3 linked regions of the Homo sapiens genome follow. The protein of the gene in region 3 interacts with the protein of the main gene of each other region in a pairwise test. Each region holds a gene or a part of one and is shown on either strand. Other genes may lie near its edges.

Region 1 (6,713 bases), on a different chromosome or scaffold from region 3:
ACCTTCTTCACAGAGCAGCAGAATGGATTGAGTGCTGAGAGTAGGGGAAAAAGCCCCTTATAAAACCATCACATCTTTTGACAACTCACTCGCTATCATGAGAACACCATGGGGGAAGCGATGATTCAGTTACCTCCACCTAGTTTCTCTCTTCACATGTGGGGATTATGGGGTTTATAGGGATTACAACTCAAGATGAGATTTAGGTGGAGAAACAAAGCCTAACCGTATCAGGCACTTAGGGTACTGCCCCTCTAATTTTCCAAGGACGTTTCTGCTTCTGTGGCTTACTCCTTGTTTCCCCTTGCTAGCTATTGGTACTCTACCTGTTCATTAATCCCTGTAAAACTCAAATACCAACATTTTCCTTTTTAAACAGTCTGGAATAACTTGTTCATGTCTCTTTTGTCGTGGTAGTTACCCCATGATTGATAATATTGTAGTTATTTATATAAACATCTTCCTCCTCTATCAAACTCCAGGGAGTTTGGGTGGGGAGAGGTAATGACTATGCTTTATGGATTGTTTTAAAGCATGAATTTGATAAAGATTTATTGAGCAAATATATAAAATGTATTAGTATAAACTAATTTATTGCCCGTGATTTTTAGAAAAACAGTATAGGAAAAAAAATCTAATATTTATATGTCAAATATTACATACATTGCCTTATTCAATCATAATAATTCAAGGAGGTGTTGCTATTGCCATCCCTATTTTAAAGAGTAATTGATCCGTAGTGAAATTATATAACTTTTCTGAGGTCACCAGCATGGTAGAATCAACCCCAGGTTTGCCTCTCCCTAGAGTTTGCCTATCCCTAGAGTTCATGCTCTTTCTACTGGTCTTTGAGTCATTGTGATTTCTTTCTCTTGAGTGATGCCCAAAACTCTTTAGACTCAACATAATGTCTATAGCTTCCACATTTCCTAGAGGATTTTTGTTTCACAGGTAAAGTAAGCTGTTGACCTATTACAGACCTATTGTTATAAAAACACGTACCTTTTACTGTTACATATGAGCCGCCAAAGAAACCCAAATAGATATTTTCACAGCATCTAATTCTATTAAATGGATTGCAGAAGAGTTACAGGATGACAGTTTTAGAGATTTTATATTTTTGCCAAAAACAGAAGCCTTAGGACAAGAGAACTGCTATAATATGCCAGGTCTTTGGTGTATACTTCAGATGAAAGCAATTTATAGTAAAACTTGAAAATGCTTCTGAGAAAATGTCAAAAAAATAGCCTTCTAAAGACTACTTCTTTCAAATACTAGCCTTTGAACATCTACCATTAGTGTTTGGAGTTTCAGAAATATTATTGATGCCCCTTCTCCTCTGGCAGTAAATATCCATGAAGCAATTTAATGGGGATGACCACTGGATGAACTTGCTGTTAACCTAGATGTAGCACCTGGAAGTTACACCAGATAATAATGTCCATTCTGCCTGGCCCAGCACAGTTCTGTAATGCATTCTTATTCTTCCCAAGTTTGAGAGTGGTACTTGCACCTCCAAAGGCTTGTCTCTCACAAATGGCTGCCAAAACAAAATGTGGTTTGCTGCTTTCATCAAACTAGTTAATCTCTCCTGGCTTGAGAATGAGTCCTTGCTGAGAAGTGCCAGAGGCTTGCTTGTCAGTCCACAATGAGCTCACTTTTCTGGCTTAATTCATTTTTGTCCTTTGCTAAAATGCAAATGACCCTAAAAGAGGTAACTTTAAAATGTGTCTGCCAGTGATCTTTCACAGCTAGGATTGCAAAATGGTTTTATGCTGTGTGCCAACTCTAAAAGTGGCTATGGCTGTCAAGAGTGCTGTTAGGAAGAATGATGAGGCTACACCTCAGCTCAACAGGAGAGAATAGAGTGATGGATTAGAGATGTCCACCTGGGCACAGGATGACTGGTGGTGTTGGTGGCATATGTGCCAGGCATTTATGGGTCCTGATTTAGTGAGTGAGGGAGGTGAACATACCTTTTCTGAAACCAGAGTGGAGGAGGAAAAAATAAGAAATAAACTTACTTCTAAAGGAAAAATGTGGATACTGTAGGGAGAAAGGAAAGCAAGCCAGAGGTTCTAAAGACAAGCCTCCTAGTTGCTGGCCTCCTCAGTGTTGGCCTTGCTGAGTGCAGTCTTGCCCCTCAGCTCCTCCTCCTGAGGTTCTTTTTTACTGGCCAGAAAGCCTTGCTAAGCTGCTATTCGGCAAAGTACTACCATGTTCAGTGGTCCAGAGATTAATATTTGAGAGGAGGCTGATCTATTCAAAGCCATAAAACTTCTCAGATCTCATGTATTCGTAACTGTGATTTTGGTGTCTGGCAATTGGGAGGTTGCACAATATGAAAAGATGCTTGATAAATGAGGTCCTAATCCCAATGATCCCCAGCACACCACATGGCCCACAAAGGTCCAAGGCCTACCTATTAGTAGCCCCCGCTGGCCACAGTGTCCGTGATTCCAAACATGGTAAGTGGTATAAACATATTTGTGTAAATTTTGAATAGAATATTCCAAGCCTAGATCATAGAGGCTGGCCAAGTTGACGTGTCTCCCAGGTGATAGTATTGTCTCTTTATAGAGATATGACCACCTCTAGCCGTTCTCCTGGCTTTGCATTCTCAACTCCCCAATGCTTAGGATTGTCTAATTTCTCCTTGCCCAGTGGCCTTTAGCAAATGCCCATTAAAGGTAGACTGCCAAAATCTCTGTTTTGGAAGCAACTACATTTCTTACCCCTCTCTTCTTCTTTGCTCCCTTCCCGCAGAAAAAAGAAAACCAAGAGAGGTGGGAGGGAGAAGACTCCTACTGTAATTTCAGATGAACTTCCTTGTACTCTTTTTTGCCATTAAGACAACCCACCCCATCACCACCACCACCATCAGGTTTTACAGGCTGTCACTTTCAGATTGCCTCACCCTCTGGTGTGTGCATGATTTCTTAGCACCTTTAAATGCTGTGGAATGGTATACCCAGGACTCCATGTCAAGTGGGGTTCATGCCAGAGCCTGAGCCCATCAGTATAATTAGAGTCACTGGAACATACTTAGTATAGATAAAGTTAAATTGAATGTTATTCAGATAATTAAGCAATACCCTTTTGAAAATTGGAGAGGACCTGGAAAGCAGGAAATTGAAGGCTGAAGCTCCCTCTGGAGAATATTCTGAATCTTGTTTTTGCATCTCCGCAGCTTCTCTGGTTGGAAGTTGTTTGCCTGCAGCCATCTCTGCCCAGCACTCAGCATATTCTCAATGAGCACCCGCTGCATGCCAGGTGCTAGGGTGGGGGGCACTGAGAGAATCTGCAGTTCCTTTTAGGGTTTCTGCCAAAACCATTTTTAATTTATTTCTTTAACTTGTATGATTTGCTTCAAACATCAATCAAAAAAATAATTTTACTCCTCAAATTAAAACTTGAGCATTTTAAACTAGGAGTTTCTCCCTACAACCATTTTAATTTTATCAACTTTTTATTGCAGTAAAATTCACATAACATAAAATTCACAATTTTAGCCATTAAGTGTAAGAAGCCAGACACAATAGACCAGATACAGCATGATTCCATTTAAGATATCAAAATCTATTTGGGCAGAAAGTTAATTGATGAATGGCTACCAGGGGCTGAGAGCAGGGTGAAATGGGGGAGGGACTGCTTGGAAGAGTGCAGAGTTGCCTTTTGGCACGATGAAAATGTTCTGGAGCTAGATAATGGTGATGGTACACATGCTGTGACTGCCAAATGCCACTGAATTGTATAGATTAAAATCTTTGTTTTTTACGTTAGATTCACTCAGAATACAAAAATTAATTCATATGTGCAGACAAAAAATGTCATTTCTACCAAGTGCTAAATGAATGCCATATATATATATATATATATATATATATATATATATATATATATGCGGACAGTGTGGTGAAAAGGTTAAAAGCTCAGGTCTGTGTGTTAGATTTGCTTAGAATTCAGGTTCTGCCACTCACTCAGTGACCTAAGGGAAGGTAAACAGCCTTGGTAGTCCTTCTCTGTAAAGTAGCAATAATTCTAATGCCTCCCTTGCAGGGTTGTTCTGGGATGTTTTGAGAGATTTTGTGTAAAACATTCAGCACAGATCTTGGCACTTAGTATGCATCGAATAAGCAATAGATGCTAATATAATATAAAAGCATGGAAGGTTGGAGACAGGGAGAGAGATGAAGCCGGGCTGTGTGGGCAGGGCAAAGCAAAGACCTTGAGGAGAGAGGATAAGTGTGGTGGTGAGAGAAGTTAAGTGGCAGAATTAAAGGTTACAAGCATTTATAAATACAAGTTAAGATTTCCCCATACTAAGAAACAAGAAGTGTACTGCAGGGTGTTTTGCCCCATATCTTGGGCATCACTGTGTGATTTGGGAATGTTGTTAACTTAAGCTTTTCTCTCCATGAGAAGGAAAAGCAGCCTTCTCTGACCTGGCAAAGTTGTGGACTTCAGGTAAAGCAGAGACCAGGTGAGAATGGCTTTGCACGGAGTAGAATTGGTTAAATTTTCCTGACACACTCTGGCATCTTGGCAGCTAAATGTCAGGTTCCAGGTCAGAGCAGAAGTGTGTTTACTTAAAAACAAGACCAGCAGGGTGAGGCCTGGCTGCTCCAGCTGCTTATGATGTTGAGCATCTGTGATGTGAAGGTCACAATAGCTTAAAAATTAGTGAGAAAAGACGTTCCTGTTGTTGTGTATCATCAAGAATATAAAAGGAAAACAACTCTTCTACTAAGTTCCTTCATTCCACTAAACCAATTTTAAGATTGTGAAAAATGATGGCTTCTCCTTAACAAACAGAGGGTGAAAGCATTCAATATTCACAAAAGGGAACCCACACATCTAGAGAAATGAATCTTTTTGTCATTTTACCGCTTAAATTTCTGTATCTCAAAATTGTCTTTGGCAGATGAAACAGAGCTCTATGAACTTACTTGATCTGAGGAATTTTTTTCCCTTTGCAGCAAGAAGCCAAAACCACATCAAAGCACACCTCCCCAACAGAAGCCTCTGACCTTAGCCTACGATGGAGACTTAGACATGTAATCTGAAAAAGAAATCCAAATGTAGACATCAACTGCCTTAACCGCTTTCTCTTTTGTAGCTCTCAGACTTCTCAGTTTTTTGAGGAATCTCAAGATGTGATATATTGGGCAGAATACAAATATTGCAAAAGTAATATTGCCTCAACTTCATTTGGACATGGAGTCAAGGATTATTAGGTCTGCCATTTTGTTTTCAAGTTGTTTGTGGGTGTGTTTTATTTTTTTGGTTTTCCCAAGGGACCTGAAAACCCTTCTCTTCCTGTTTGGAACTGGGAGGAAGAAAACATGATGGAATTCCCACAGACTTGAGTAAACTTGATCTTCAGCAGCATAATGACAATCCAGAGGAAAATACAGTCAAGGCATTTACTCTAAATGACGAGTCTGACACTGCATTGTTACGCACTATATTAGTGCAAAGTCTTTATTCTTCCCATACTTCAACACTGAGTTTTCTAGAGTTTACTTTGGTTTAAAGACTTTCAAATTGGATTGCCTATTTTTCATGAACACAGAGAGAATGGATTACCATTTCAGAAATTCTCTGAGTTTTTAACCTTTAAATATTGTATTTTGTTTTGTAGCCAGGGGATGATGGCGCTTCATGGGTTGCAGCTACTGAAAATAGCAGCGTGTGTGTAATTGCTGGACTAGATGAAAGCTAGGTCATTTCTGAAGGGAATGTGTACTGAATGTTAGAGTGTACAAATGAAATATGTGGTTAAATTGGAGAATGAGGTAGATTATTTGATTACTAAAACTGTATTTTAACAAAAACTTATCCATGTAGATATAGCATTAACCACACACAGTTGTAATTCAGTTTAATGATGACAAACTCTGCTTTTGTAATTTCAATTTTCTTATCTGAATATTTATAAATTCTTCTTTCAAATTTAATTATCTGACCTCATTTAATATACATCAAACACCGATCCTGTTTGTACAAAGTCTTGCTTTTATAAGGTTTCAATAATATCTAAAACAACACATTAAAAAGCTGAGACCATTTTATGAAGATAATTGTTTGTAATCATAGGTGTTGAAAGTAAAAAGGTGCCATCTTGTGGTATTGACTTGTATTTATAACAAATAAACTGCTCAAGAGACTGCAGTGTTGGCTGTTCTAGATTTATTCACTTCTGAAGTGCCTTGCCCTTGCTTTGACAAAAACAGTATTAATATCAGTTTTTCAGTGTTTTGGGGGTTGACAGCTGCTATCACTGACAAAAACAAAAAAAGGAATCTTACCCCTCCACACTATCAGGCATACTAGGAAACAGCGCCAGTCACAATGACATAGAGTAGCTTTTAGGGAACATTTAGAGCTCAAATAATATTAGAAAAAACCGCTGTAATCATGCAAACACTGATATGTAAATGATGTGAGAGAAGGAAGAAAATGGAAATGTTAGAAATGTGACACAACGACCAGATTAAAGGATGTTTTCATTTACACTGTAACCTCTATTAACCATTTAACACCTAGGTAAGCCCTCCAACTAGCTGATTGTGTGCAATGATATACCATAATTTTAAAATAAGAAAGCAAAAAGAGAATACTTTACTTTATTTTACTAGTATACTTGAGAAAACAATTCCCAGAATTGTGCTTTCAAAAGTTCACTTTAGCTAAAGCATCAGTAGCCTTCT
Region 2 (4,709 bases), on a different chromosome or scaffold from region 3:
GCCCTCACATGGTCTTTCCTCTGTGTATGTACATTCCTGGTGTCCCTTTGTGTGTCCTAATTCCCCCTTTTTACAAAGATACTACTCAGATTGGATTAGGGCCCATTTTAATGGCCTCATTTTAACTTAATCCCCTCTTTAAAGGCCCTGTCTCCAAAAACAGTCATATTCTAAGGCACTAGGGGTTACGGGTTCAACATATAAATTTTAGGGGGACACAGTGCCACAATGTAACCCATAATAGAGGTCAGACAGGTAAGATACATGTAGTTGTGATGGAAACCAACTCTGGATCCTTCAAGTCTTTGATCCTGTACTAACTGCAGCAGTCATTCCAAGGATGTGGTATTGCTGTGCTTTTCTGTTTTGGTGGATTTCTGCTTGACTTTCCTACTTAAAAGTCCCAGCTCCATGAGTTAGGAAACTAATATGGTAATGCTGCTAGATGCATTCTATATTTCTATCAATTTTGCTTTCAGAAATGGGGGGCATATAGAGTGAATGTGTGTGGGAGAAAGAGAGAGACAGAGAGACGGAAGGAAGAGAGATTTTTAGCATTTAATTACATTTAAATGTAACTAATTTTAAATTAACTTTTTGAGTTTAAATTTTTTTCAAATTAAAAAGTTTAATGCTTTTCATTTTTTAATTTTAAAATGTAATTATAATTTTGGAGTGAATGGTTTTATATCATTTGTTGATCTCTCTCAACATTGGGCAATCAATACTTATATTTGTGTTAAGTAACATTTTATAATTTATATAACATATTTTTCATCTTAAAAATAATTACGGTCAAAGATTTTGTAAAATAGTTTTTTTAAAAACAATTTTGTGGCTGGGCGCGGTGGTTCATGTCTGTAATCCCAGCACTTTGGGAGGCCGAGGCGTGTGGATCACAAGGTCAGGAGATCGAGACCATCCTGGCTAACAAGGTGAAACCCCGTCTCTACTAAAAATACAAAAAATAAGCCGGGCGTGTGGCAGGCGCCTGTAGTCCCAGCTACTCGGGAGGCTGAGAAGGCAGGAGAATGGCATGAACCCGGGAAGCGGAGCTTGCCGTGAGCTGAGATCACGCCACTGTACTCCAGCCTGGGCGACAGAGTGAGACTCCATCTGGAAAAAAAGAAAAAAAAAATTTGTTTTGGAGTTATCAAAAAGATTCACATTTTTTAAAATCCAAAAATTATAGGAAAGAACCAGGTTCAGTAAACCCATTTTCAACAGGTAATAAAAATGAAAAGGAGATACTAATGCTGTTAGGATTTTGAGATGCACAATGCAGACGTCAGGTTCAGGGTGGCTTTGTCTTTATTAGTCAGCATTTGCATCTAGGAAAAGTTTCACATGATTAAATCAAGAGATGCAATACACTCAGGCTTTTCATGAAATTGACATCATTATTACAAATGGTGCTCATTTGAGGCAACTGTGACATTATGCAATGAGAAACATCTGTCCCCTTCCCTCTCAGGTCCCCATGGTGGCCTAGGTTCATGATTACAGCCACCTTTAGGATTAAATACACAAAAGCCTTACTCTATATATGCCCCTTTGACTTTAACATATTTCTCAAAAAGAAGTGCAATAAACTTTTATTCTTTCTTGATTAGATGGAGTTACAATTGCCAAAATAAAAATCCAAGGTCCAATTCTGGTTTTAAAACTAGAAAAGGAAAAAATGTTATTATCAGTAATGACTTTGGGAAGAATTCTTTAACACACAGTGAGGGTGAGTTCTTTTGGAAACAACTGTATTCTATGTTTATACATATTTATATATAAAAGGTGTCCTCATTGGGGGAGGGGGGTGCTGATGCCACCAAGTTCCTTTGAAGCCTTTTCTCCCCCACTGCCAATGCCCGAGGGGAAGGAGTCTTCAATGGCGGCTCAATCTAGCTCTTGCGTTTAGACTTGGATCTCATTCCAATTTAGGCTTTTCTTTCTCTTCTTCCATACCTAGAAATACAGGCAAAGTGTTTTATTTGAGCATCAGATTAAACCACAAGCAGTTTGTTTAATCTGGCTTGCTAACACTACTCACACATCCACTCATCTGCCCTCACTTCTCCCATTCACCCTCCTGACACACCCCCTATTCCCTCCTAGCTAAGAAGGAAAGCCATGCACAACTTTCTCCAGAAACATCCTCAGTGACCTCTCTTCCCCACCCTTTCCACAGAATCAGGACACAGCATCTCTGGGACACACCCAGCTCCTATGGCCTCTGGGAGACAAGGCTTCAAGTTGATTCATGACTTGCTGAGTTTGCATGGAAATCCCAGCTAGACTGCTTTTTAAACCAGCTTCTGGCAACATGAGGTGTGCAACTCATGAGTTTCAAACAGACTTCATTTATTTTTACTTTAGTCCTGTCTCTTCCTAAGGCAAGGACTTTGGATTTTAAAAAGCCATGCTTTTTTTTTTCTTGTTTTCTTTTTAAAGTTCATAGAGAGTTTATTAGCCATAAGAGCTGTTTATTTCCATACTCATGAATCTTAAACTGCAATTCTCTCTCTATTCAACCCAATCCTGGTAGAATCATGTTTTTCTTCCTGAAGGACTTGTATGTACTGGACCAGTAAGAACCTTTGCCTGTTGTCTGTAGAGAATAGTCGATGATGTTTCATGTTCCTGAAGATGAAAATGTTCATCATTTTTAGGAATTATAGTTAAATCTGGCAAGTGCTTCTTGCTTTTTTCTTTTTCTTGTACCTAAACATTTTTTGAATCATACCAAATTCTCAGTTTCTTTGTTTCAATAGCAAAAATGAAACAAAATAACTTAAAATACCACTTTGCAGGTTTTGTTAGTATTCTTTCATAAATTGCAAGCTTTCTGAGGGTAGGGCCCTTCCCTATTTTGTTCCCCAGCACCTAACATAGTGTGTGTGTCTCATTGCAGGAGCTCAATTAATCTTTGCTGAATAAAATTAATAAGCAATGAACACAGAGAAGACCTCAGAAGCCTGGACTAGTGGAAAGCAGAACAAAATATGGGACTCCACAATATGAAAATTATAAAATTTAACCCCAGAGGGTCATAATGTTAGGGCTTACAATAGGAAGGACTCCCCCACCACATAACCCCAGCTCCTGGTATATGTTTTGTGCTGTCAGAGTAGTGGTGGTGGAATGTGGGTAACGTGCTCTGAATGAATGTCCCCAGATGATCTTTTATGTTTGGTTTTCATGGCTAAGGAACTGGCAGAGATCTGGAGCACTTTTTCCAAAGTCCTTCTCAGAAATCCTATGAAGGAAAACTTCAAATTGAGGAGTAAGGACATCTGACGGGAGGAGGAACAGGTTTGAAGGCAAGAAGGTACAACACGCCTTCGTTGTTGGGTAACCACGGAAAGAAGAAAACAGCACAGATTCAGCTCAAACAGCACATGTGTCTTGAACCTCAGCTCTGTCCATATTCCCTCTCCTGTGGAGAAGCTATCAGGGGCTAAGAGCAGTTTGCTTTTCTTTTTAAAGTCTGTTTTTTCCAAAGCGTTCTCCTGCAGATGGGTTGACTTGGCAGCAGTGCTGGAATCTTCAAAAGCGCGGGTGGAGAACGGGGGGTATTCATTGACCTAGAGAGGGAAAATGGCTTCCCACCTACTTTAGTTTGGCAGCTGTGAGGTAGACAGAAAAAATTAGACAGCTGTAAATAATGTTTGCAAGAACCAGAGATAAAATTTCCAGGCAAAGGGCAGGAAGAAACCTATCGCAAAGCGAAGGCAGGATACACTTTTGGGACCAGAGGGGACAAGACTGCAGGGCGCTGAGGGAGTCAGTCACATGCCCTTCCTGCAGGCCGGTGGAGGGCTCCACCAGGGGGCAGTGCTGGGACATCGCTAGACCTGGATGGGCCTGGGGGGAAATGACCTGCACGGGTAGCTGGAGGAGAAGAGGTGCAGGTTTCTGCACACATAGACGTCTCCTGTCTCCCCGCTTGCCTACTTTCTCTGTCCTCACACCAACCTTTTGGTTTTGAAAAGACTCATTTCTGGTCTTACAAAATGTAGCTTTAGTAAGACTGGTCAGATATACCAAAATTGGGATAAAGTCTTAGCTTAAGTAAAGAAATATTTCAGCTGTGAATTGTGTCCCCCCCCGCGCTCCACCCCGCCAAACTGCTACATCGAAGTGCTTAACTCTCAGTACCTCAGATTGGGAGAGAATGCCAAGGGTGTGGCTGGACAGCCATGTGCTAACGAAATTAGGTACGTGACTCACGGATCCAATCAACCTCCACAGTAGATGCCAGAAATAGAGAGGTGGTTATCTGAAAAAGATCCGCGGAGTGCCCTCTTGTCTGACTGCTTGGACCCCCATGACTTGCATGGGAGGCCAATAAGGTTTTTGAGAATTTTATACCAGCAGAAACATTGACAGCATGGACTGAAAGGGACAGAGACAGGATGAAATGAAGGACCAATGGCTTCAAAGATGGTTCAGCGACTGGCTCCTCCTTGGTTGTAGAGGGTAGAACTATTGCCCAGGGCTGTGGGGGTGGGGCTCCTGTGACCCTGTGCCTGGAAGGCAGGGCTATGCATCCCCTCCCCTGTGAGCCCTGAGGACAGAACATCTAGCCAAAGAGGATTATTTTCAAGCCTTAAAATGGAATGGAATTTCCCCCGCTAGCTTCAGACTTGCTTGGGAACCATGATTCTTTCTTTTTTTTTCCCCCTGCAACTTCTCCCTTACAGAATGGGAATGTA
Region 3 (5,624 bases):
ATTTTTATTGGGATTGTATTTAATCTACAGAGGAAGCTGGGAAGTGACATCTTGACAATATTGAGTCCCTCCATGAAATGGAATATCTCTGTATTTACTTAGTTCTTCTTTGATATCATTCACCAGTTTTGTAGTTTTCCTCATGTAGATCTTATACATATTGTTAGATTTATACCTTAAGTACTTCATTTCAAGGGATACTAATTTAAATAATCATGTGCTTTTAATTTCAAATTTCACTTATTCATTGCCGGTATATAGGAAAACAATTGACTTTGTATATTAACTTTGAATCCTAAAATCTTGCTATAATCCCTTATTAGTTCCAGGAAGGTTCTGGGGCTTGTTTTTGTTTTGTTTTTTGGTCAGTTATTTCAGATTTTCTACATAGATGATCATGTCATCTGTAAACAAAGACAAAGTTTTATTTCTTCTTTCTTCCCAATCTATATATTTTTATTTCCTTTCCTTGTCTTATTGCATCAGCCAGGACTTCCAGTATCATGTTGAAAAGCAGTAGTGATGGGGACACCTTTTTTTTCCTGATCTTAGTGAGACAGCTTCAGGTTTCTCACCATCACGCCATTTAGTATGATGTTAGCTGTAAGGTTTTTTTTTTAGATATTGTTTATCAGGTTGAGGGGCTTCTCCTCTATTCCTGCTTTACTGAGTGTTTTTATCATGAAAGACTGTTTGGATTTTTCTGCATCTGTTGATATGATCATGCAATTTTTCTTCTTTTGCCTGTTGATATTCATTACATTAGTTGATCTTTGAATGTTGAACCAGCCTTATATACCTAGGACAAATTCCACCTGGTCATGGTGTTTAATTATTTTCATATATTGTTGGACTTGATTTGCTAATATTTTGTTGAGGATTTCTGCATCTATGCTTATGACAGGTATTGGTCTGTAGTTTTCTTGTAATGTCTTTGTCTGGTTTTGGTATTAAGGTGATGCTGGATTCATAGAATGAGTTAGCAAGTGTTCTCTCTGCTTCTAGCTTTTGAAAGAGATTGTAGATAATCAGTATCATTTCTTCCTTAAGTCTTTGGTAGAATTCACCAGTGAACCCATCTGGGCCAAGTGCTTTCTGGTTGGGGAGGTTACTAACCATTGATTCAAATTATTTAACAGAGATATACCTATTCAGATTGTCTATTTGCTCTTGTGTGAGTTTTGACAAATTCTATTTTTCAAGGAATTGGTTCATTTCATCTACATTATCAAATTTGTGGGTATAAAGTCATTCATAAAATTCCTTCATTATCTTTTATTATCCTTTTAACCTCCATGGGATTGCTAGTAACGTCCCCGCTCTCATTTCTGATAGTAGTAATTTGTGTTCTTTCTCTTTTTTTCTTAGTTAGCATGCCTTGAGACTTATGGAGCTTATTGATCTTTTCAAAGAATCAACTTTGTTTCTATTTATTTTATTGATTTCCTATTTTCAATTTCGTGAATTTTTAATCTAATTTTAATTATTTCTTCTCATTGGCTTACTTTGGGTTTAATTTGCTCTTTTTTTCTACTTTTTTAAAATGGAAACTTAAATGATTGATTTCAGATCTTCTTTTGTGCTATCTGCATTCAATGTTATAAATTTCCCTTTAAGCATTGTTTTTATTGCATCCCACAAATTATAATAAGCTATGTTTTTATTTTCATTTATTTCAAAATATTTTTTCACTTATCTTGAGATTTCTTCTTTGACCCATGATATTTACACGTGTGTTGTTTAATCTCCAAGTATTTTGGCATTTTCCAGCTACCTTTCTGTTACTGATTTCTAGCTTAATTCCATTGTTATCTAAGAGCAAACATTGTAGGACTTGTATTCCTTTTTTTTTTTTTTTTTTTTTTAAGACAGAGTCTCACTCTGTTGCCCAGGCTGGAGTAGAGTGGCATGATCTTGGCTCACTGCAACCTCTGCCTCCGGGGTTCAAGCGATTCTCCTGCCTCAGCCTCCCAAGTAGTTGGGACTACAGGTGCCCACCACCAAACCTGGCTAATTTTTGTATTTTTAATAGAGATGGGGTTTCAGCATGTTGGCCAGGCTGGTCTTGAACTCCTGATCCCAAGTGATCTGAGAATTTCTATTCTTTTAAATGTGTTAAGGTATGTTTTATGACCCAGAATGCAGTCTAACTTGATGAACATTCCATGCAAGCTTAAGCAAAAAGACTAATCTGCTGTAGTTTCCTCATCTTTTTCAACAAACATTTGAACCCCATAGTCTCTGCTTTAATAATTCTAGTATCCATTCCAACCTACACCACCATCAGTTCTAGACTGTACCTCTACACTAAATGACCCCAGATGGTTCAGCTTTAAGTCTCAGCTGTTTTCATCATTTAACTGATTCCCTTGCTGGCAGCAGGGAAATTAACTACCAGCCACACACTTGTCTCCAACAGCACCCACCGACCACGTCCTGCTCCCCTGTCATTACCACCACTAAACCCGGTAGCAGAGAGATGAGCTGTGAGGTAGGTGCCTTCTAGATAAATGAGGTGCTACTGGACATGCACTGTGGTCTTCTCTGCAGTAGAAAAATGTCCAAGGAAGGTCAGCATCATTGATAGAAAATAAATGTGAGGCTGCATCTCGCCAGCTCATCCATGAGCAATTCCTTCAGCTCCAGCAGGCTACTGACAATTTGCTTTTAACCCAAATCCAGCTCTACCCTCCCTAAAGCATGCACCTAGGGCCCCAGTCAGAAAAACAAAACAAAAACTAAACCAGACAGGATAATTAAGGAGGCAAAAAGCTTAAACCATAATATTTTAATTAAGCTGATTTATTTTAACCGTAGCACTACTGCTTTATTTTAGTTATATACCAGTAATGGAAAATAGTGGCCACTTTTCATTATTAATCATAAGATAATTCATTGTATTTGTCTTTCCTAATAAAATGGCATTATATTAAGGCCCAAAATGTTTACTATGGCCCAGTAAAATATAGGGTTGTTCTGTGAGCTATTTCTTAGGATAGAAAATTATTCCAGAAAGCTATTAGTTCAAAAGTCTCTAGCAGTGCCAAGGTTTCAATAGTCTCTTTAATTTTGAATCTATGCGATTGAAGATAAGACTGCATCTAGTTTGGGGGTTGCATGTTTGTGGACATTCATGTTTCTATGTACCTGGAACTTCTTATTCTCACCATCACACAGAATTTTCAAGAACTAGTTAAGCAAAGAAAGCAAAGCCCAGCAGGTGTCAGAATTGGGTCCCCAAGCTGAGGGTCATTAGGGTGCATGTCAGTGTGCCAACTCCAATATCCACACCTAGAGAACGCACATCTTCCCAAAAGAAATGAAGCACAGATGATACTTGATCCTCAACTTTGTCTCCAGAAATTTTTTCAGGAACTTGAGTTCTTTATCAAATGCTCACATCCTACAGAGAAATAAAGTGTTCCATTTTCAAGGTTCATGAAGCTCGTCAATGCTGGGAGCAGGCACACACTTGTATTTTTATACTCAGGGATCCCAACAGGCAACTAAAACTAGACAAGGACAAAACTCCACTCAAAATATTCTGAAAGTTAGCTGATGCCCCATATTTTATTACTCCAAATGTGTATTCACTTGCCTGAGTGCTGGCCATGAGCACTCAGTGAACACTTGCAGTACAGTGAGTGATGTCCTTGACAAGTTACTATGAAGACTCTGAGAAAAAGTAACATCCCCCACTGTCCTCAACAAGCCTGTAATCCCATGGCTGCCAGCCCTTACCATGCAACAACACTGCGCTAAGTGCATCGAACCACACAAAACCCTGTGAGAAAATACTGCTTCCCACTTCACACGTGAAGTAACTGAGTCTAGTTTTAGAAATACCTAAACGAAGAGGGACAGGCACAACAAATTTGCTGGAATGTAAAGAAAGTAGATCAGTTTCTGCGTAAGCAGTAAGAAATGGCCTCATGAGGAAGAAAGGGACATTTGCCCTGACATTTCTCAAAGACTGCTTAGGTTTTGGAGACAGAGATCCAAGGGCAGGCAAGCACAATGGTTCATGCCTGTAATTCCAGCACTTTGAGAGGCCAAGGTGGGAGGATTGCTTGAGCCCAGGAATTCAAGATTAGCCTGTGCAACACAGCAAGACCCCATCTCTATTTTAAAAAGAGAGAGAGAGATCCAAAAGCAAAGGCATTTCAGTTTGCAAGGCCAGCATGGGAGAGGGTCTTAAAACAGAAACACACAAGGTAAGATTGGGGGATGGTACCTAGACCAGCCTAGGATCATAGGATTTGATAAAATATGCATTTGGAAAACTGGTGCTAATTTATAGAGACTTAGAATTTCAGGCTAAGGACAAGGACTAAGAAACGAATAGCATGAACAGTATTATTGATAAACCCATCATTGCATCTTAAAGGCTCTGAAGTCTTTAGTATTGAATTAAAAAATAATTTTCACTGGACAAAACCAAAAGGTCTTTACACAACTGTCAAGCACTTTGAAATGATTCAGCAAAAAGCAGAATAAATCACTAGTGGAATTTCAATAGCATGTAGTTGTAAACCATCATGTGTCCAGCAAAATCACAAAACAAGAGTTTATTTTAGAAGGGACTTAGGGATATTAAGAAATATAACATACAAAATAACTAAAGTTTTCTCCAAGCAAAACCAATGATCCTTTAGGGATGAACAGAAAGAAAACAAGAAATGCTTCTTTCAAAAGTTGCTACCAAGGCTTCTAAGATTTCTTTGGAATAAAGTCACTAAGATTTGCTTCTGAGGTCAATCTTGCCAACTTTTCCACCATGCTTTTTAGGAAGGAACACCAGGTAGGGCTCAAGTACTGGTTTGGCTCCTGTCCCATTTTTTGGTCCTTTTGTAACTCCCTTTACTCAACTCCAAGTATGTCTGTGCACGGACAATGAGACGAAAGCATGCTCAATGCGAAAGCACAAATTATGTATTGAGAAATCACTACAATGCCAAATTTTTTTAAAATAAAAAAAAAATATATATATATATATATATCTTTAAGAACTCGCTGTGTTAGGGAAACTGTTTACATATTGAGGTGTTCCTCTTTTTTTGACTGGAACAATAAAAGAAAAATTTGATATGGCCTTGGTTTCTTTTTTATGTGTGTCTGTGTCCAAAGAAGTCGGCCTTTTCTACAAGTGAGAGCATGAATTGTTTCAAAGCGCAACACCCTGCCCCAGGGCCACTCAAGATGTCAGGCATATCAGGCATAACCCAAGGATAGTACCATGGGTTTGGAGTGATCTTCTCTCTTCTTCCCTCCCACTCTTCCTCTCTCTCCATCTCTTTCTTTCTCTCCCTAACTCTCTTGCTCCCTTTCCTCCTTCTCGCTCTCCCCCTCCTGTCTCTTTCCCCATCTCTCCCACAATGTTCTGCCTATGGCCAGATCCCAGCAATGGGTCAGCTCCGCTCCTTTCCACACCTACTGACCCAAGTGGGACTCCTTTGATACCTGTTTGTACCTTGCACTTCATGGAACTTGAAAAAAACGAAAGGGAATTAGGGACTTGCAGAGCAGTTGATCCTGCCCCTTGTCACAGCTCTAAGAGTCTTAATAAAAGGAGTTTGATCATTCATGATAAAGTTCCATGTTGGACTAAAGAAACATTCCGTGAG

The links. The genes of interacting proteins can lie anywhere in the genome.
Region 1: the proteins of KCNJ6 (region 3) and THSD7B interact in binary tests that used the Homo sapiens proteins (3 or more experiments, as listed by UniProt).
Region 2: the proteins of KCNJ6 (region 3) and AIG1 interact in binary tests that used the Homo sapiens proteins (3 or more experiments, as listed by UniProt).

What each region holds. Positions count from the first base shown.
Region 1 is NC_000002.12:137,671,545-137,678,257, forward strand, and holds the end of THSD7B (thrombospondin type-1 domain-containing protein 7B precursor), read left to right. Parts: intron 1-4,979; coding exon 4,980-5,061; 3' UTR 5,062-6,174; downstream 6,175-6,713.
Region 2 is NC_000006.12:143,336,889-143,341,597, reverse strand, and holds the end of AIG1 (androgen-induced gene 1 protein), read right to left. Parts: intron 3,621-4,709; coding exon of another isoform or gene 3,604-3,620; exon of another isoform or gene 1,960-3,603; coding exon 1,922-1,959; 3' UTR 540-1,921; downstream 1-539. UniProt on the Homo sapiens protein: Hydrolyzes bioactive fatty-acid esters of hydroxy-fatty acids (FAHFAs), but not other major classes of lipids. Show a preference for FAHFAs with branching distal from the carboxylate head group of the lipids.
Region 3 is NC_000021.9:37,606,840-37,612,463, reverse strand, and holds the end of KCNJ6 (G protein-activated inward rectifier potassium channel 2), read left to right. Parts: 3' UTR 1-5,091; downstream 5,092-5,624. UniProt on the Homo sapiens protein: Inward rectifier potassium channels are characterized by a greater tendency to allow potassium to flow into the cell rather than out of it.